Linked DNA regions of Homo sapiens. The protein of the gene in region 1 interacts with the protein of each later gene in a biochemical or structural test. Each region holds a gene or a part of one and is shown in the gene's direction. Other genes may lie near its edges.

Region 1 (4,525 bases):
GGAAGCTGGGCGCCATCCTGACCCCCAACGACGGCCGCTGTCACCTGGAGGACAACTTGTACAAGAGGAGCAACGAATTCGTAAGTCCCCACCCCAGGCACCCAGGCACCGCCTGGCAGGACACCACTGACGGAGGAGACAAGGGTGGGGTCTCCACCTGACAGAGCCTCCTTCTGACCCAAGGAGCAGATTCCTGAGGAAACTTCTGGAAGCCCCAAGTGGCAGCGTGGGGTCTCCCCGGACTGGCCTCAGGCCAGGGGAGGGTAGGGTTGGTGGGGGCAGCCAGGCTGAGGCCCGGCCTCGCCCTTGTGGGACACCCAGGCTCTGTTGGTCTCCAGCCCCACTGCCCCCCTACCTGGGCTGACAGCTGCTGTGGAGGTATAGTAACCGCCCCCAGGCTACGGCTGCACCCTGCCGTCCCCGCCTCTGGCCAGGGTCCCATCCCCAAGCATCCGCCTCCTCCCCCTCCCGGCCTCCACTGTACGTTCCCTGCTGCCCCTGAGTCCGCCTCCTCCAGTGTGGCCCCTCCCTGCCCCCATTGCCTGAGCTGGGTGAGCGGCTGCGGGGACCATGAGGAACATGCAGGGAGGGACAGAGGCGAGAAGGAGCCCAGGATGCACGGGTTAGGATGAGCCTCTCTGCGGAGGCATCTCAATGGCTCAGAGGGGCCAGGACTTCTGGCTGGGATCAGCCGTGGGCCGAGAGGCAACCACTGGTCACAAGGGGCTTGTCCTCGCTGGCCGTAGTGCGACGCTCTTGCAGCCTGACGTTGTAGGCTCTGGGGGCCGCAAAGGACTTTAGAGATACAAGACTCAGGTCCTCCGCCGGGAGCCACAGACGGGAGGGACGGCCCTCGGGTCCCGGAACTCGGGTAGGGAGAGCCGCACCTGACACTCATGGCCTCTACCGAAACTGAGTGTCCCTCAGTGCGAAAGCAGGTCCACCGTGTGGGGAAGGCTGGGATTCTGCCCCCGTGGACATCCCCAGTCCCACGGTGAGACGCCTCAAATGCTGCTCATGCCTGGACTCTGAAAGCCCGAGTCTATGCACACATTGCCCAGAGGGCGTGGCAGCTCTCTGCCCTGCACTCCTGCGTGGCAGCCTCTGCCTCTCCAGCCTTCCCCAGAGAGGGTTCGAAGCACGGGCAGGGCTGACGCTGAGCGGGGCAGACAGGGGCGGGTACCTGGAAGCCTTGTCCTGGACTCGGGGCCAACTGAGCAGGACCTCCTCTCTCCAGGACTACCCATCGGTGGGCCAGCTGGCGCACAAGCTGGCTGAAAACAACATCCAGCCCATCTTCGCGGTGACCAGTAGGATGGTGAAGACCTACGAGGTGAGTGCTGTTGGGTCCCGAGCATCCATTGGGTGGGGGCATGTTTCAGCCACAGGCCAGACCCAGCGCCACTGCAGGTCTGAGCGCCACCTCTGCATGCTGGGCACGTGAGCAACCAGCCGGCCCAGGTCCTGGATCCCCCTAGGTGAGGAGCCCGAGGCTTCCCGTCGGGGACAGGACGCCTGCGTGTCGATAGGAGGAGGAATTCCTCCCCGTCCCTGAAACTCAGCTGTGTTAACAGCATGTCTTGGCATTGGTGATATTTCTGTTTTTTCCTGGAATACAACACAATTCTTTATTTTATGGAAACACACTTATTTTATGCTCACATACATTTGAACATCAACACTCTCCGTGAAGATAAAATTACACAAAAACGTTCACAAGCTTGGAGTGCGGAGTGGGATGAATTTCACGAAGGAAGCACAGCTGATAACCAGCCTCTGCTCCTAGAAAAAGAGGCCCCCAGTGAAACACGTTCATCCTGCATTTCCGCTGCTAGTGCCATGTGTTCAGCCTGAGCAGGTCAGTGCGTCAAGACGCTCAGGTGCTGTTGGGGTTCCCAAGACCTTTCTCAGGATCAGTGATTTGCCGGAAGGACTTGCAGAGCTCAGGAACCAGTAAACTCACAGTTACAGTTTATTGCAGAGCCGACCCTCCTGGGTGCCAGCCGCTGCCCGAGGTGGGAGGATACAGACAAAAGTCAGCAAAGGTCAAAGGTGCACAGGAGAGAAACCAGGCACCAGCTCCCAGTGTCCCCTCCCTGCAGGGGTGTGGGCGGCGCTCCATCCTCCCAGCGATGATGTGTGGCCTCATGCACAGAACATGGTCCCCAAGGAGGCTCTTGAGCCTCGGTGTCTACTGGGGGTCAGTCACAGCGGCGCGGCTGACACCCCATGGCTGACCTCAGTCTCTAGCCCTCCAGAGGTCAAGCTGAAAACTGTCCAGGGCCCCACCCCAAATCACACTGTGGGACTATCCGGTGTGACCTGAGGCCCCAGGAACAATGACACCCCCATCGGGTAGGATGTACCAAGGGCTCAGAGGCTACCTCTCAGGAGCTCAGCCGGGGTCTACCACTCTTTGGCATGTGTGGGGTGTGGCCAGCCAGGCCTGCTGGGTGGAGCCCTGACTGTGTAACAGGGATTCGCTAGAAGGAAGGAAACACTGCACGCCCTCCTGAAAGGAGCCTCCGCCCATAGCAGCCTGCACAGTGTGTGGCCCTGAGGCCACAGGGACAGAAGGACTGAGCTGGAGGAAGGAGGTGGTTGTCATTGTACTTTACACAGCCACGTGCCCCGTTCTTCAGGGTGGAGCTGGAGGAACGAGATAGTTGTCATTGTACTTTACACAGCCACGTGCCCCGTTCTTCAGGGTGGACAGGGCCCTGGGTGGCTCACCTCACACCCAGCTCTGTTACTTACCACAGGACGCCCCAGGCCCTTCCTTACCCCGAGCCCTCAGTTTCCTCATCTGTGAAAGGGGTAGTGGTGCCCGGCGGGCAGTGCGTCGTGGGTACTGAGCTCACCCACTCAGGGAATTCACAGAGCAGCCGCCCTAAAGGGCCCGATTATCCTCATCCGGACAGTGACCGACCTGCTGGCCATTCCAGGGCCATCACCGCCATCTTCTTCAAAATGGCACGCAGGAAACCAGGGCCCCCTCTTCCCCCTGCCTGGGGCTCTGCCCAGCTGGGCAGCCTCACAGCCCCTGCCCTGCTGCTTAGGCTGAGGAGACATACTCGGGGTTTGGGGAAGGAAAGTGCCCGGGAGGGCCGCTGCTTTTGTAAAGTGAACATTTGCTGAACTACAGGGATCCATTGTCAGGCCCGTATCCCAGCTACAAGCTCAACCTCGTGGTGTGTTGGGGCCGACAGCGAGACCAGCGGTTCCTGCCATAGGTTCCCCGGGCTCTGGAGTGGGAGCAGGACCCTGCGGGAGACACGGGATGGGGGCAGGTGTCTGGGGGACCCTCCGAGTGGGCACCCAGAGCTGGTCAGGCTGCCGGGACAGTGGGTCAGCGCAGGGCAGGGCTGGGGCCGGACATCCACAGAGACCACCTGCTGGTCAGGATGTCACAGCCCTGTGTCCCATCTGTAGGTGGCCATGACGGTCCCCTCCTCACCAGCAGTAGCAGGTCCCAATCCTTTGCCATTTGTCATGGCAGCCAGACTCCAGGCGATGGTGTGGCACCAGGGCCAGGCACTGGAGGCAGGTAGAGTGCACCCCATGCCTACTGCTGAGCCTTGGGGCACACAAGCCTTCCTCAGCCTTTCCTGGTCACCTTCGGGGGTGGTCAAGGCAACAGGCAGCGAGTGTGGACACACGTGCCACGCCCCCTCCGAGTGTGTTTCTGCACCAAGCGCACAGCAGGCTCAGCAGGACAGGATGTGGGAGGGCCCAGCTCTCCCAAGACAGGGATGGCCCCAGACTGGGACGGATGGAAGTGGGCGGTGGGCGGAGGGCGCAGAGGAGGGTGGTGGCCAGGCTGTGACCGGCCCCAGGAGCTCCATGGAAGGGACTGGGCCCATGCAGGGCAGTCATGGGAGGGTTTGGGCGGGGAGGTGACCCGACCATCTGCTCCGTGTTCCTGGAAGGTGAAATGATGCCGCAATCTTCCATGAAAGAAGCTGAGCATGTGTGAGCATGGGGGAGGCTGGCTGCGCCCCTGTGCATCTGGCCGGCCAGAACCGATGTCACCGGGCTGTTTAACACCCATGGAAACTCAGTAGAGTGCCAAGAGCCGATGGCTTCCTGGTGATTTTACTGTGATCCACCCTCGTGGGGCTACTTCCGCCTACCATCTGTGTGGTGGTAGGAATTCCCTACCTGTGTGGTGGAAATTCTGGCCAACACTGGCCACCATGCACGTCCTCCCAACCCAGTGATATTGCGAGCTTGAAATCCACCAGGCAGGATCACTCACACCACAGGCAGGAGTACTCACACCACAGGCGGGAGCAGTCACACCGCAGGCAGGATCACTCACACTGCAGGCGGGATCACTCACACCGCAGGCGGGAGCACTCACACCGCAGGCGGGATCACTCACACCGCAGGCAGGAGGACTCACACGGGCAGGCCTGGACAATGCTGCAGCTCAGGGCTTTGCTTTCTTTTCTTATCCTCATGATGCAACAGTAATTTTTTTTTTATTTTTTATTTATTTTATTTTATTTTATTTATTTTTTTA
Region 2 (4,525 bases), on another chromosome or scaffold:
TATGGACTTTTTTGTTAAAAAATATATAAATTATATCATGATTTCTTAACCTTTTGTAAGGGTTCTTTCCTATCTAAAATGCTATAAATTCATTGCTTTTCTGTTTTATCTTTTATATATCTGGAAGGAATATTAAAGTCTCTTTTTGATGAATTAGAAAACACCTATAAGCCTGTAAAATAAAAAGCAAGTTAGTTACTTGTAAAATACAATGAGCATACAGGCATTGGGTGAACGTTTCCATTCCAAATTGGAGAAATTGGCAAAGCGAAGGAGCCACAGGCCCCTTGCAAGTTTGAAACCCGGTGGGGCAGTCATTAAATCTTAAAGCTCCAAAATTATCTCATTTTACTCCATGTGTCACATCCAGGGCATGCTAATGCAAGGGATGGACCCCAAGGCCTTGGGCAGCTCCACCTCTGTGGCTCTGCAGGGTACAGCCCCCATAGCTGTTTTCACAGGCTGGCATTGAGTGACAGGCACACAGTGCAAGCTGTTGGTGGATCTACCATTCGGGGGTCTGAAAGACAGTGGCCCTCTTCTCACAGCTCCACTAGGCAGTGCCCCAGTGGGGACTCTGTGTGGGGGCTTTAACCCTACATTTCTCCTCTGCATTGCCCTAGTAGAGGTTCTCCATGAGGGCTCTGCTCCTGCCACAGACTTCTGCCTGAACATTCAGGCGTTTCCATACATCCTCCGAAATCTAGGCAGAGGCTCCCAAAGCTCAACTCTTGTCTTCTGTGCACCTGCAGGCCCAACACCACAGGGAAGCCACCAAGGCTTAGGGCTTTTACCCCATGAAGCAATGGCTTGAGCTGTATCTTGGCCCCTTTTAGCCATGGCTAGAGCTGGAGTGGCTGGGATGCAGGACATCAAGTCCTGAGGTTGCACAGAGCAGCAGGGCCCTGGGCTTGGCCCACGAAACCATTTTTTCCTCTTAGGCCTCTGGACCTTTGATGGGAGGGGCTGCCGCAGATGTCTGACATGTGCTGGTGACATCTTCCCCATTGTCTTGGCTATTAACATTCAGCTCCTTTTTACTTATGCAAATTTCTGCAAGAGGCTTGAATTTCTCCTCAGAAAATGGGTTTTCTTTTTCTACCACATAGTCGGGCTGCATATTTTCCAAACTTTTTGCTCTGCTTCCTTTTTAAACGTAAGTTCTAATTTCAAATTATTTCTTTGTGAATGCATATGACTGTATGCTTTTAGAAAAAGCCAGGTCACATCTTGAATGCTTTGCTGCTTAGAAATTTCTTCTGCCAGATACCCTAAATCATCTCTCTCAAGTTCAAAGTTCCACAGATCTCTAGGGCAGGGGTAAAACACTGCTAGTCTCTTTGCTGAAGTGTAACAAGAGTGCTCCAGTAACACCTTGATAGATTTTTCAGTGTCTAAATATTCCTGAGTATCAAAGTTTGATAAATATAGACAGAGAAATAGAGATTATATAGACATAATCTATATAAGTGAGTCACTCCAAGTCACTTCTTGTCATTTCGTTTACTAAATTTTTACTTCCTTTTACAACGGGACATGTTTGAAGCAGAACCTTTTCACCAAATCTTCCCTTTCATTAATTCATTTTTTAACAAACACCTACTAGGTGAAAAACATTATTCAGTATGCTTATGGTGTAGTGGAAACCAGGACATTTCTCCAGAGAAAAGATCCTCTGAAATCTAAATTTTGATTGATTGCCTGAGCAACACTAAACTGAGGAAAATAAATAACAGCAATAGTAATATTCATCAGTTATATATAAGGTAACAATAAATTCCCATTTGATTAGGATAGCCCTGGCTTATAGATTTTTACCCAGTGTAACTATTGGAAATGCTCCTTTTAGTTTTAAAAGCATCTGTATTTGGATGATAAATTATATGTTCTCCTTATTTATACAATACCTGCAAGTACAAGGAGCTTGTAAGAATTTCACATTTATTAACTTATTTAATACAAGAATCTGGGAAAAAACATGAAAACTGGAAAAGTAAGACTCCTTCACAATGAGAATCACAGAGTGATTTTAGAGGATATGGCAGAAATCAAGTAGCATAAATATTATTTCTTTTTTAATTTTTTAATTTTTTAATTTTTTTATTATACTTTAAGTTTTAGGGTACATGTGCACATTGTGCAGGTTAGTTACCTATGTATTTCTTACATAGAATTGAATTTAGAGAATGTAAAGTTCTCTGCAAAATGAAGGTATGAATATGTTATAAATACTAATTTTCATATATAGTGTAATGTTTTTCCAATTAAGGATACATTTGAATTGATTCAGAGGAAAGAAATTTCTTAAGAATTTTTTATTTTAAAAATCCCATAATAGGCCGTAATCTATCAATTACAAACATCAATTTTAACTTTGATACTTCTTTAGTGATAAAAAAGTAGTGCATACTTTAGAACATATGTACAGAAAGCTTTTTTGACATTGCATTCCTGCTGCTTTTAAAAAAGAAATGTATTTCTGGGATAGGAGGCATTTTTAAAGAAACTATCTCATTGTGACTATCTAGAAAGGTGACATTTCATACTACATGAGACAATGTGCTTTAAAATTTTCTCTGAATAAAAGGAGAGATAAGAGTACATGAACTTTGAGTAGAGCTACTTACAAGTCTACTTAGTCCTACATATTGCTTTACTATTGTGTTGCAAGGCATCAATCAATGGAATTAGGGTAGTCTCAATGAGTAGTGCATTAATTTTAGCAAATTTAAATTGCTTCAATAAAATATAGGTGTTGTAACATACAATTATCAGCTCTTTGGTGAATTTGACATTAAGAAATCTTCACTAAAACACAGAAACCTCTCTAGATAATAATTCTTTATAATAAAACTTTTTAATATCATAAAATGGATCTTTTCTTCCTTGTTAATGTTTAACTGGTCTAAGGTCAGGAAAGCCCAACATACAGTGTAAGTGTGGGTTAGTGGCTTATTTGATCATGTAAATATTCATTTATATAATCCTGCCTTTGAAATCTAACTAACTCCAGCTCACTTCTTGTTATTTCATTTACTAAATTATTTCCTTCCTTGCAGAACGGGACCTGTTTGGAGCAGAACCTTTTGACCCATTTAACTGTGGAGCAGCAGATTTCCCTCCAGATATTCAATCAAAATTAGATGAGATGCAGGTGACTATTTTGATAGACTGGCCCATAAATGATTTATTTCATTTTGATATGGGACAAAGAGAATGTTATGTACCAAAACTATGGTTTCCTTCAATTATTTTCGCTATAAAAACTCGCTTAAAATAATTACTTTAAAATAATAATGTACAGTTAGTCCTAAAAATACTCCTACATATGCTAAGGATAAGGTTGTTGGTTTTTTAAATGGTTCAATTTATAATGTCAATAAGATGGTTCATTTTTTAAATACAAAATGGCATGGATTCTAATGGTTCATTGTTCTGAAATCTAGAGTTAAACAGTCACTGCATTAGATTTATAAGATTTGATCTCAGTCTTAACAATTATGAATTTGAAAATTGTAAATGGGTAGATGAAGGAAAATCTTTGTAAGAGTGAAATTATTCTCTCTGAAAAGAAGCATTGTAGCTGTAGTTCATAACTTTTGGGCTTTTATTTAAAAAGCAAACAACCAGTGACAACTTATTTAGGAATGTAGTTCAGTTGGGTTTTCATTTCTCTCTCTTCCTTTTACTTTTTTGTTCTAAATTGGTCTGAAGTTTACAGAAATTGGTTTTAAATGCTTTGCACTATGGGCCATGATTTAAAAATAGTCTTATAAACCCTAGAATAAAGTCTTCTCTTTATATTTGCCCTTTACATTTTGGTGAAGTTATTATATCCTATTTTTCATCAAAAAGTTTATATATGGTAGAATCCAGACAGACACCAATTATATGAAGCTGATTGAGAAGAGACAATGAAGACACTAAAGTAAGGAGAAGGAGGTATTTTTGTTTATTAGTCTTGGGTTAATACATTAATTCTCTATGCCTCACTTCCTAGAAAAAACAATTATGGGTGAACACTGATCTATCACTGATAATTGCAATCCTTCTTAGAAAGTTAATTTAAATGCCCTTTTACTCATTTTTGACTGCAGCTGTGTAGCTATCTTATTTTCTAGGTAGTACATGAATTCATTATTGTTCTAGATGTAATAACATGCCTGAATTTAAAAGTTGAATTACTTAACATATGTCTTGAGGTTTTCAAAGAATCTATTAAAACAGTGTTTCTCAAGTTGAATGATTCTTAATCCCCTTTTACATAAAAATTGTTTTAGATCCTTAGTATTAACTTACAATTTTTAAATATTGACAAAAATGTTATAAACAACTTGTCCTTATGGTTTTTATAAAATTATGAATTCAATAAATTATAAATTAAATGAAAGCCAAATTGCAACACCAATACAGGACGGATGATCTTATTTGGTTAAAGCTAAAACCACCTTATCAAATTTCTATTGATTTCAACATGTATTCTATCTGATGGCACAGATTTCCTAGTTCTTTTCTATATTTCAAA
Region 3 (3,582 bases), on another chromosome or scaffold:
CTGCTTACAAACCTGTCCCCTGTCCTCCAACCCAAAACGCCTTTTTTTCTGTCTTAATATCCAGAAAATCTAAATGCATCCTAAAATCAATGTGAACCTTTAACAAGATAGTTTTACTTATTATCACATAAGACATAAGATGTTTTCATTTTCTGGATGTCACACTTCCAGAATTTCATATTTTTCCCCTCTTTTCTTTCCCCTTTTCAGAGCCCTCCCATAGGAAGGGAAGGGCTTGAATTTACCCTTAATCTGCACCTTTAGCCAAGGCAGTGCATGGAAGATGAATGGCTCGTGGGACAGAATCTAATGCCAGGGAGCAGGAGTGTTTGAAAGAATTCATAGTGGGGAAGGTAAAAGTTAATGGAAGTACATGATTTTCAAAACTGGTAACAGTTAAAGGCACTCACCCTCCGCCTCTCTCTCTCTCTCTCTCTCTGGTGTGCTATCATGTCTTGGACTCCATCCACACTATAGTTTCAAAGTTCCACTGACGGGGGAAAGTTGGTGCTTTGGTCCTCCGAAGATGTCACCTTTCGACCTTGCCCGATCTTGTTTCACCAGACTCTAGCCCATGTCATGGTTTTAAAATACATAAACTTCTGACAGCTTCCCATATTTATAAGTTACTTATAAGTGCTGCACGTATTAGAATTTTTTTTTTTCAGACCAGTAAAGTTAGAGAAAAGACGCTGTAAAGGAAAAGCAAGTGAGAGTATGTGTAGGACACTGACAGTGTGTGGGCACCAGTTCTGAAGAGGAGGGGAGCTGCTGGAGCCCTAGCCTGTTGGGGAAAAGCTGGCACACTCTTGGCTCGCCCTCTTTGAGTGGAGCTGATCCAACACCTCATGCCTGCCTTGGCCGGACACTGAGAGGAGGGGCACACGTGCTTCCAGAGACACTCAGGAGTCAGACCCCAATGCTCAGAGTCACAATGTGTTCATGGCCTCCTGTAACAGGACTCTGGGGATCCCCTCTGTGGCCCAGCCCACCCCACCCTCTGCTCTTCTATGCTGTGCCCAGGGCAGCTGCCCTCTTCTGCCTGTGCCCCATCCCATCCTGAAAACCCAGGACCAAGGCAGGGGCAGGCAGCCAGTTCTTCCACCTTGCCTCAGAGTCATTTAAAACCTTTACTGCATTTGATACCAGAAAAGCCTCCAGAGACAAACCAAATGCAAAGGCCTTTCCTTTATAACTCTAAAGAACAGGCATCGAAAGTTTATTTTTGTAGGAGCTATATAAATACTCACCTTTCTGGAGTCGTCCAGTGCTGGGAGCTTTGGGGAGTTTGGTTCTCAGTTATCACCTGGTATGGTCCCAGTTTCTCATCTGTCCTTTCCTCATCCACCCTGCACATGTGTATGTGAACGGCTTCGTGGCCGGTGTGGTGGTTTCTCATTTCATAAGATAGTTGAAGGGCCATGCCTTGTCTGGATGTTATTTAATAGGCACTACTGCGGTGTCCTCAGATGGTACTGAGGGGGCCTTCTGGTCCTTCAAAGGAAAATAACACAGGCATGAGTTCATTTGGGAGTGTGAACTTTCAGAACACCTAATAAGAGAGTGGTGTCAGAGTAAAAACGGCCCCAGGTCTGGAGCATAGAAGTGTATCTCTGTGAAGAGAGAGCCGGTGTGTTGACATGTGGTTCTTCTCACACCCCTCTACTCCTCGAGGGCTTTGAATCCTTGGGCTGATTTTTGTGCCAGAAATTGCTGTTCCCGATGGCCAAAAGGGGAACCTGAACTGGATTTCAGAACTGCCCAGTGATTTGAAAATTTAGATTTTACTTGGGCCTTTCAGGAGTCTTTAGATAGGGATGCTGAGGTCATATTTAGTTCAATGAACAGCCCTTGTTTAAGTTTTGCCAGTGTCCAGCCAGCTGTGGCCCTGGCCATCTGTGCAGGCAGGTTCCTCAATTCCTGGTTGGCCCTGCAGTCGGTCAACACAGTCCCTCCAGGTCGGCTGCAGAGGCAGCTGCCCAGCCTGCAGTCTATGCACGGGCCTTAAGAAATGAGCTGCCTGTAGCCTCACGGCATATGCTTTTATCAGGGAAAACCCTTCGAGCTTCTTCTGATTCTCACCTGCTTGCTTTCTGGCTGTCTTAGTCAGTGTGTTTACAGGCAACTAAAGCCTGTTCCTAATTTATCAAAAAATTATAACCAAAATTCACCATAGCCTAAGAGAGTAAACCCCACCTCCAAAGTGATGCCAAGGCCAAAACCTCATCAAGGAACCAGACACAGGTCAAAAGTGGTGAGCAAGCCATGGTCTCTGCTCCTGGGGAACTCACACGCTGACCCCCGAGGAGCCTTGGTTTCCTCCCTGGCAGATAGTCCCCAGAATCTTCTCTCCCAGCTTTGAGGTTCTGGGCTCTGGAAAGGCCTCTGGGATGCTGGCCTTAAGATCTCAGCACAGACTATCAGCATGTTCCATTCTCAGATTCCTGGAGGAAAGGTACCCTCTGTTGACCAAGGGGCTGGCTGCTTCTGAGACTTACCAACCCAAGAAATTTGGAGACATTCCCCTCAGGCTAAAAGGCAGCGGTCCCCAGAGTTCAGAAAGCAAAAGATCTTGACAACTGTGCCAGTAGTGGCTCTGGTCCTATCTCTCCACAGTGCTGGCCTCTGCTGGGGAAGGCATCTTTCCCAAAGGTATCCCCAAGTACCATGTTGAAAATGTCCTCAGTCTGTTGCTCCATCTTTCTGAGCCTCTGCTTGGTATGTCATGTTTATGGTCACTACGGATGAGTGTGTGCAGAGTTTGGGTTGATTCTTTTAAATGCTACAAACAAGAGCTATTTCTTTTCAATAAAAAAGGTTTGGATTCGGCCTCTTCCTCTGAGCCCACCTCCCAGCCCTCCAGGGAGCATCAGTGTACCTGAGTCACTTTGTCTGCATCTCTTCATCCCACAAAACACGAGGCTGGGTCTCATTCAGCGGCCTCTCACCAACCTTCAAGATCCAGAAGAAAACAGGAACGTTCAGCTCTGCCCTGTGTCGTATCTAATCACATACATTAATTTATCTAACCACATAAGTTATTTTTTTTTATTTGCCAGAAATAAACCTTTAAAGGAACAAACCTGTGTGGAGGACTCATGGGAATGGGAGGAAGATGGAAAAGAAGGGGGAAGAGACTGTCTTTATCATGAGAGTAAAATTCCACCTTGAGGACTAGCTCCATAGTTACCAGAGGTATGTCAGGAGAGAGCACGTGTGTGTGAGTGAGTGACAGACGCAGAGCCACAGGGTGCCACAGAATTTCATGTAGCTTTGCTGACAAGAGTTAACTTGGAGAAACTCCAGGAGCAGGCGTCCTGGACAAGTAGCTAGGGGGCTTTTTGGCTTTACATACCGCCTCTGTCAGAAGACCGCACAGCTGAATACAGAAGTGCATATGGGATCATCTCCAATCTTGACCCAGGTCCTGGCACAGGAAGGTTAGGTTCACTTCTGACAGCTGAGGCCACAACTGCAACCCCCGGAGACTGCCAGGCCCTCCTTCCTGTTTGGACTGGGAATTGCTGGGGGCCAGAAGTCCTTGTTTGTGGCGGGGCAGCCAGACTTAGAAAAGTGTGAGGC
Region 4 (4,525 bases), on another chromosome or scaffold:
GGACATGTAAAATGCAGTGTGGGGCTGGGCTTGGTGGCTCACGCCTGTAATCCTAGCAGTTTGTGAGGCTGAGGCAGTAGGATCACTTGAGCTTAGGAGTTTGAGACCAGCCTGGGCAACATAGTGAGACCCTGTCTCTATTAAAAAAAAAAAAAATGCAGTGTGGGCCAGGCACACTGGCTCACACCTGTAATCCCAGTACTTTGGGAGTCCAAGGTAGGAGGATAGTCTGAGCCTAGGGGTTAGAGACCAGCCTGGGCAACGTAGTTGAGATCCCATCTCTATAAAAAATTTTTAAAAATTAGGCAGGCATGGTGGTGCAAGCCTGTGGTCCAGGCTACTCAGGAGGCTGATGGAGCAGGATCCCTTGAGCCCAGGAGGTTGACGCTGCAGTGAGCCATGATTGTACCACTGCACTCCAGCCTGAGCAACAGAGCAAGACCCTGTCTCTAAAAATAAAATAAAATGCAATGTGGTAATAATATAATAATAACCATGCATGTATAGCAGGTGCCATAGAGGCAGAGAAGAGAGGAATTCATTCTGGGGGAATTGAAATAAGTTTGGTGCCTGAAGGAAGAGTGCATGTTTGAGGCAGAGAGGGAAAGGACATCCCAAGGAGAGGGAACATCATGAACAACAACAAGGAAATACGAAGTTTTTTTTAGCGCAGAAGTGGTTTTTCCTTAATCTTCCCTACTCCTTCGCCACAGGAAATGCAGTGGTGATAGCTGTATTCATTGTAAAGAAAAAGTTAAGATTGGAGAGAAGTATTGGCACCACTTACTGTCTGTCAAAATGCTGTCCCAGTGTGGGTAGCATCCTCCAGGGTTCTGTATTCAAGGTCCTATAGTGCCACCATGGCCCACAAGTGGCTACATTCATTTACATTTCCTCTGTGTGTTTTATTTTCCAGGCTTATTCTGTGTATGATGAAGAGATTGGTTATTGCCAGGGCCAGTCATTTCTTGCTGCTGTGCTCCTTCTCCATGTGAGTAATTAGGTCTCTGTTATGACTTAACACATGGCCTCCCTCAGCTTATACTAACCTTAGGCTTGAGCATGGTTTTATATTGGGTTTGGACAGACTCTTAAGGCATGAATTTTAACACCTATAGCTGGAAACTTTTTCCTTAAATTAACTTAATGTCATTGTGGAGGAGATATATGATGAGAATAAACGGCAATGTTGAAAACTGGTACAGGGGTAGACTTCCTTTTTATTAATAGGATGATTGGAGAGACTTTAATGTTGGTTGAACTCTTGGGGACGTTTTATCTTCTCTAAAGTAGCCGCTGTCATTAATACTTGTTTTGAGATTTAGGTATTGGGGTAGGAGGAAGGCGGAAAAGTTGGTTTTCTTTTAGTACCATTTTATTCATTCATTGGCTTAGCAAACACCTTTGCCCTCCACCTTTTTTATTTTCTTTCAAATCCACAGAAAACTCTAAACAGTGTTAAGGTGAACAGTCTTTATCTAGTTTACCAATTAATATTTTCCACACTGCTTTTTCTGTTTGTCTCCCTCTGCATCTCTTTTTTTCTCTTTTCTGCATAAACACACATTTTCTTTTTTACTTAAATTGTTTTTTGAAATTATTCTTGAAAGTAAATAACAAACATCAAGACTTCTAAATACTTGATCATATATATGCCTTCTGGGAGCACAGAATTCTGTATCATAATCATAATACCATGATCACATCCAAGAAATTCCACATTGATTCAGTAATGTCTGATACACAATACACATTCAATTTTCTCCCAATTGTCTACTCCATAGAATCTAGCTTTTTTTCTAATCAAGATCTAATGAAGATTCAAATATTGAATTGTCATTTCTCTTTATTCTTTTAATCTAAATTACTCCTTTGCCTTTTTTTGTGTTTCATGCCATTGATAGTTTTGAAAAATTCAGACAAATTGTCATATAAAATGTCCCACAGTCTTGATTTGTCTCATTTTCTCATGATTCAGTTTAAAATGCTTGGCAAGAATACCACACAGGTGATGTCAGCAAAGAGTTTTGAGTACCTGTTATGATCTGTACTGTGCTGAAGATCAGAGGTAAATAAGAGACATGGTCTCAATCCTCCTGGATACAGAGCTTGTGAATCCAACTAGCTTTAAGCACATAATCACACAAGTATATCATTTATTACTTTCAGTGGTGCTATTAAGGTATAATAAAAAGTTTGGTGTAAGATTGTAACAAGGGAGTCTTACTTAGATTAAAGGCTTCTCAGGGGAAGTGACCTGTAAGGAGCAGCCTGGAAAATGATAAGGGATATCATTTTCTTTTGCTCTTTTCTGTGTTAACTTTTCAAAATGTTGTTATGAAAATAATAGATCTATTTGAAAAGGGAGTAGAGAATAGAGTGTTAATGGGAAAGTGAATGGTACAGTATACAGAAGTCCTAAACTGGGGAAACACTTGGTGTATGGGAGGAACTGAAAGGAGGACAGTGTGACTGGAGTATCCTGAGTGACTGGGAGTTGAGGAGAGAGCTAGGGAGAGCTTTGAAGCCCAGATAAGGAGTCTGAATCTTGCTTTTCTAAGCAACAGGTATTCAAGGGTATTAAGCCATTTTGTGTAGATTGCAATACAAGTTTGAGTATCCCTTATTTGAAATGCTTGGGACCGGAAGTGTTGTGGATTTTGGATTTTGGATTTTGGAATATTTGCATTATACCGGTTGAGCATCCCAAATCCAAAAATCCAAAGTGTTCCAATGAGCATTTCCTTTTAGCATCATGTCAGTGTTTAAAAAGTTTCAGATTTTGGAGCATTTTGTATTTTCAGATATGGGTTGCTCAACCTGTACAAGTAAAACAAAAACCACTTTGGTTTTTCTTAACTGAACCCAGCTTGTTGCTATTGGTAGTCATGTAAAAATATGATAAAGCTATGACATGAATAAAGAGGTTGACTTTTTATTTTGTTTTGTTGTTTTAATGAGACTTTATATCTCAAAGTCCCACAAGCCTGGGTGATTTATCTTCGTTCTCACCTTCAGTTCAAGGACATTTATCCCCTTGAAAATGGGTTTTCCAATCAGACCCTCCATGTCTTGTTTTGAACTCTTGCTGCTTGCCAGAGTGTTATAAGTGCTTGTTTAGAGTGAGGGGAGATGGGCTACTTAGCATCAGAATCACCACTGTGGGTTAGGCCACATCTCCTTGCATGTGGCAAAGTGAAGTTGCCTTCCATGACAAAGACTTCAAAGATCTGGGCTTTTGCCCCAGATACTCTTAACTTACCAGTAATGATCTGCTATGCTTTTCTCACTTATTACTTAATCTGATTTGCTCTTTAGTTCTGCTTTCTTCTCAGTGATTTCTGTGCTCAGCCCGCCTCCATCATCTTGTTCCATAGAAGCCTGCCCACCTTCTTGACTTTTTTGAAGGCTTGCTACATTCACACCAATCCTTAAATAACATTTCCAGTGCTTCTTTTTTCTCTTTTGAAAATATCTTGCCAAGTTCTCAGGGAAATAATTATCCATAAAACTATGGAAAATGTAGGTATTATTATAAATGTAAATAGAAGTGAAGGAGGCTTTTGTAGTACTTCAAGCATTACTGCAAGCCTTAGAATATGTAAGGTTCTTCTAAAACAAGCTATATTTTTAACAGTGAGGAAGAAAAACAATTTTGCTAGAATGAAATAGCAGCTAAGGGAGGAAAAATGGTTAAACAGAGGTCCCAGGATTTGGGAAAGATGACACCTACACTGTATATCAGCCTATTTCTGCTCAGCTCAAATTCTGTCCTTTCTACAAAGTCTGTTTCTGACTGCCTTAGGCAGATACAGGCCTTCCTGTTCTTGTATTATCACTGATGTCTAATTCCTATTACAGTTATTTTAATACTGGCTGTGTGAGAGACTCCTTGAGGACAGGAACCATACTGACAAAGAGTAGTCATTGTTAACTATTCCTTGTTTGAGTGAATAAATGTTTTAAACACAACCTTAGGCCTGAGTTTCTGCATAGCACTAAATTTTCTGGTAAGGCAATAATATAAAGCTGGATTTAATATCCTGAGAAAACTTCTGTATGTTTTGTGATTCCCCACCGCCATCCTCCCTACCCAACAACTTGCCTATCTGTTACAGATGCCTGAAGAACAGGCATTCAGTGTTCTGGTCAAGATCATGTTTGACTATGGGCTCAGGGAACTTTTCAAGCAAAACTTCGAAGATTTGCATTGCAAATTTTACCAGTTGGAGCGCCTCATGCAGGTAAAAAGAGAAACCAGCTTGTGTTTGACAAAAAGAGTACAGGACTAAGGAGCACCAAATTGAGGAAATGGTGCCAGGGAGCATTGGTAATTGCCTTAGCGATCCGTGGCTAAGGATGGGTTTCATTTTTATCCTTTATCACTATGTGATTATGATGCAAAGATTAACAAAGTGTTAAACTTTCACACCTCATGGATGTGAGCTGATAAACTCCCAAAAGATCAGATGACTTTGTTAGGGGTCTTTTCCACAGCTAACTCAGTCAAGAAGTACTCCCCAAG

Evidence for each region.
Region 2: the proteins of ITGB2 (region 1) and GULP1 form a complex in vitro, tested with the Homo sapiens proteins (one study listed by IntAct).
Region 3: the proteins of ITGB2 (region 1) and TLN2 interact in far-western blotting, tested with the Homo sapiens proteins (one study listed by IntAct).
Region 4: the proteins of ITGB2 (region 1) and RABGAP1 form a complex in vitro, tested with the Homo sapiens proteins (one study listed by IntAct).

The regions. Positions count from the first base shown.
Region 1 is NC_000021.9:44,895,875-44,900,399, reverse strand, and holds part of ITGB2 (integrin beta-2 isoform 1 precursor), read left to right. Parts: coding exon 1-80; intron 81-1,237; coding exon 1,238-1,333; intron 1,334-4,525.
Region 2 is NC_000002.12:188,584,796-188,589,320, forward strand, and holds part of GULP1 (PTB domain-containing engulfment adapter protein 1), read left to right. Parts: intron 1-3,059; coding exon 3,060-3,154; coding exon of another isoform or gene 3,155-3,280; exon of another isoform or gene 3,281-3,814; intron 3,815-3,855; coding exon of another isoform or gene 3,856-3,918; exon of another isoform or gene 3,919-4,525. UniProt on the Homo sapiens protein: May function as an adapter protein. Required for efficient phagocytosis of apoptotic cells. Modulates cellular glycosphingolipid and cholesterol transport. May play a role in the internalization and endosomal trafficking of various LRP1 ligands, such as PSAP.
Region 3 is NC_000015.10:62,841,550-62,845,131, forward strand, and holds the end of TLN2 (talin-2), read left to right. Parts: 3' UTR 1-3,082; downstream 3,083-3,582. UniProt on the Homo sapiens protein: As a major component of focal adhesion plaques that links integrin to the actin cytoskeleton, may play an important role in cell adhesion. Recruits PIP5K1C to focal adhesion plaques and strongly activates its kinase activity.
Region 4 is NC_000009.12:123,069,434-123,073,958, forward strand, and holds part of RABGAP1 (rab GTPase-activating protein 1), read left to right. Parts: intron 1-916; coding exon 917-991; intron 992-1,978; coding exon of another isoform or gene 1,979-2,044; exon of another isoform or gene 2,045-2,068; intron 2,069-4,118; coding exon 4,119-4,244; intron 4,245-4,525. UniProt on the Homo sapiens protein: May act as a GTPase-activating protein of RAB6A. May play a role in microtubule nucleation by centrosome. May participate in a RAB6A-mediated pathway involved in the metaphase-anaphase transition.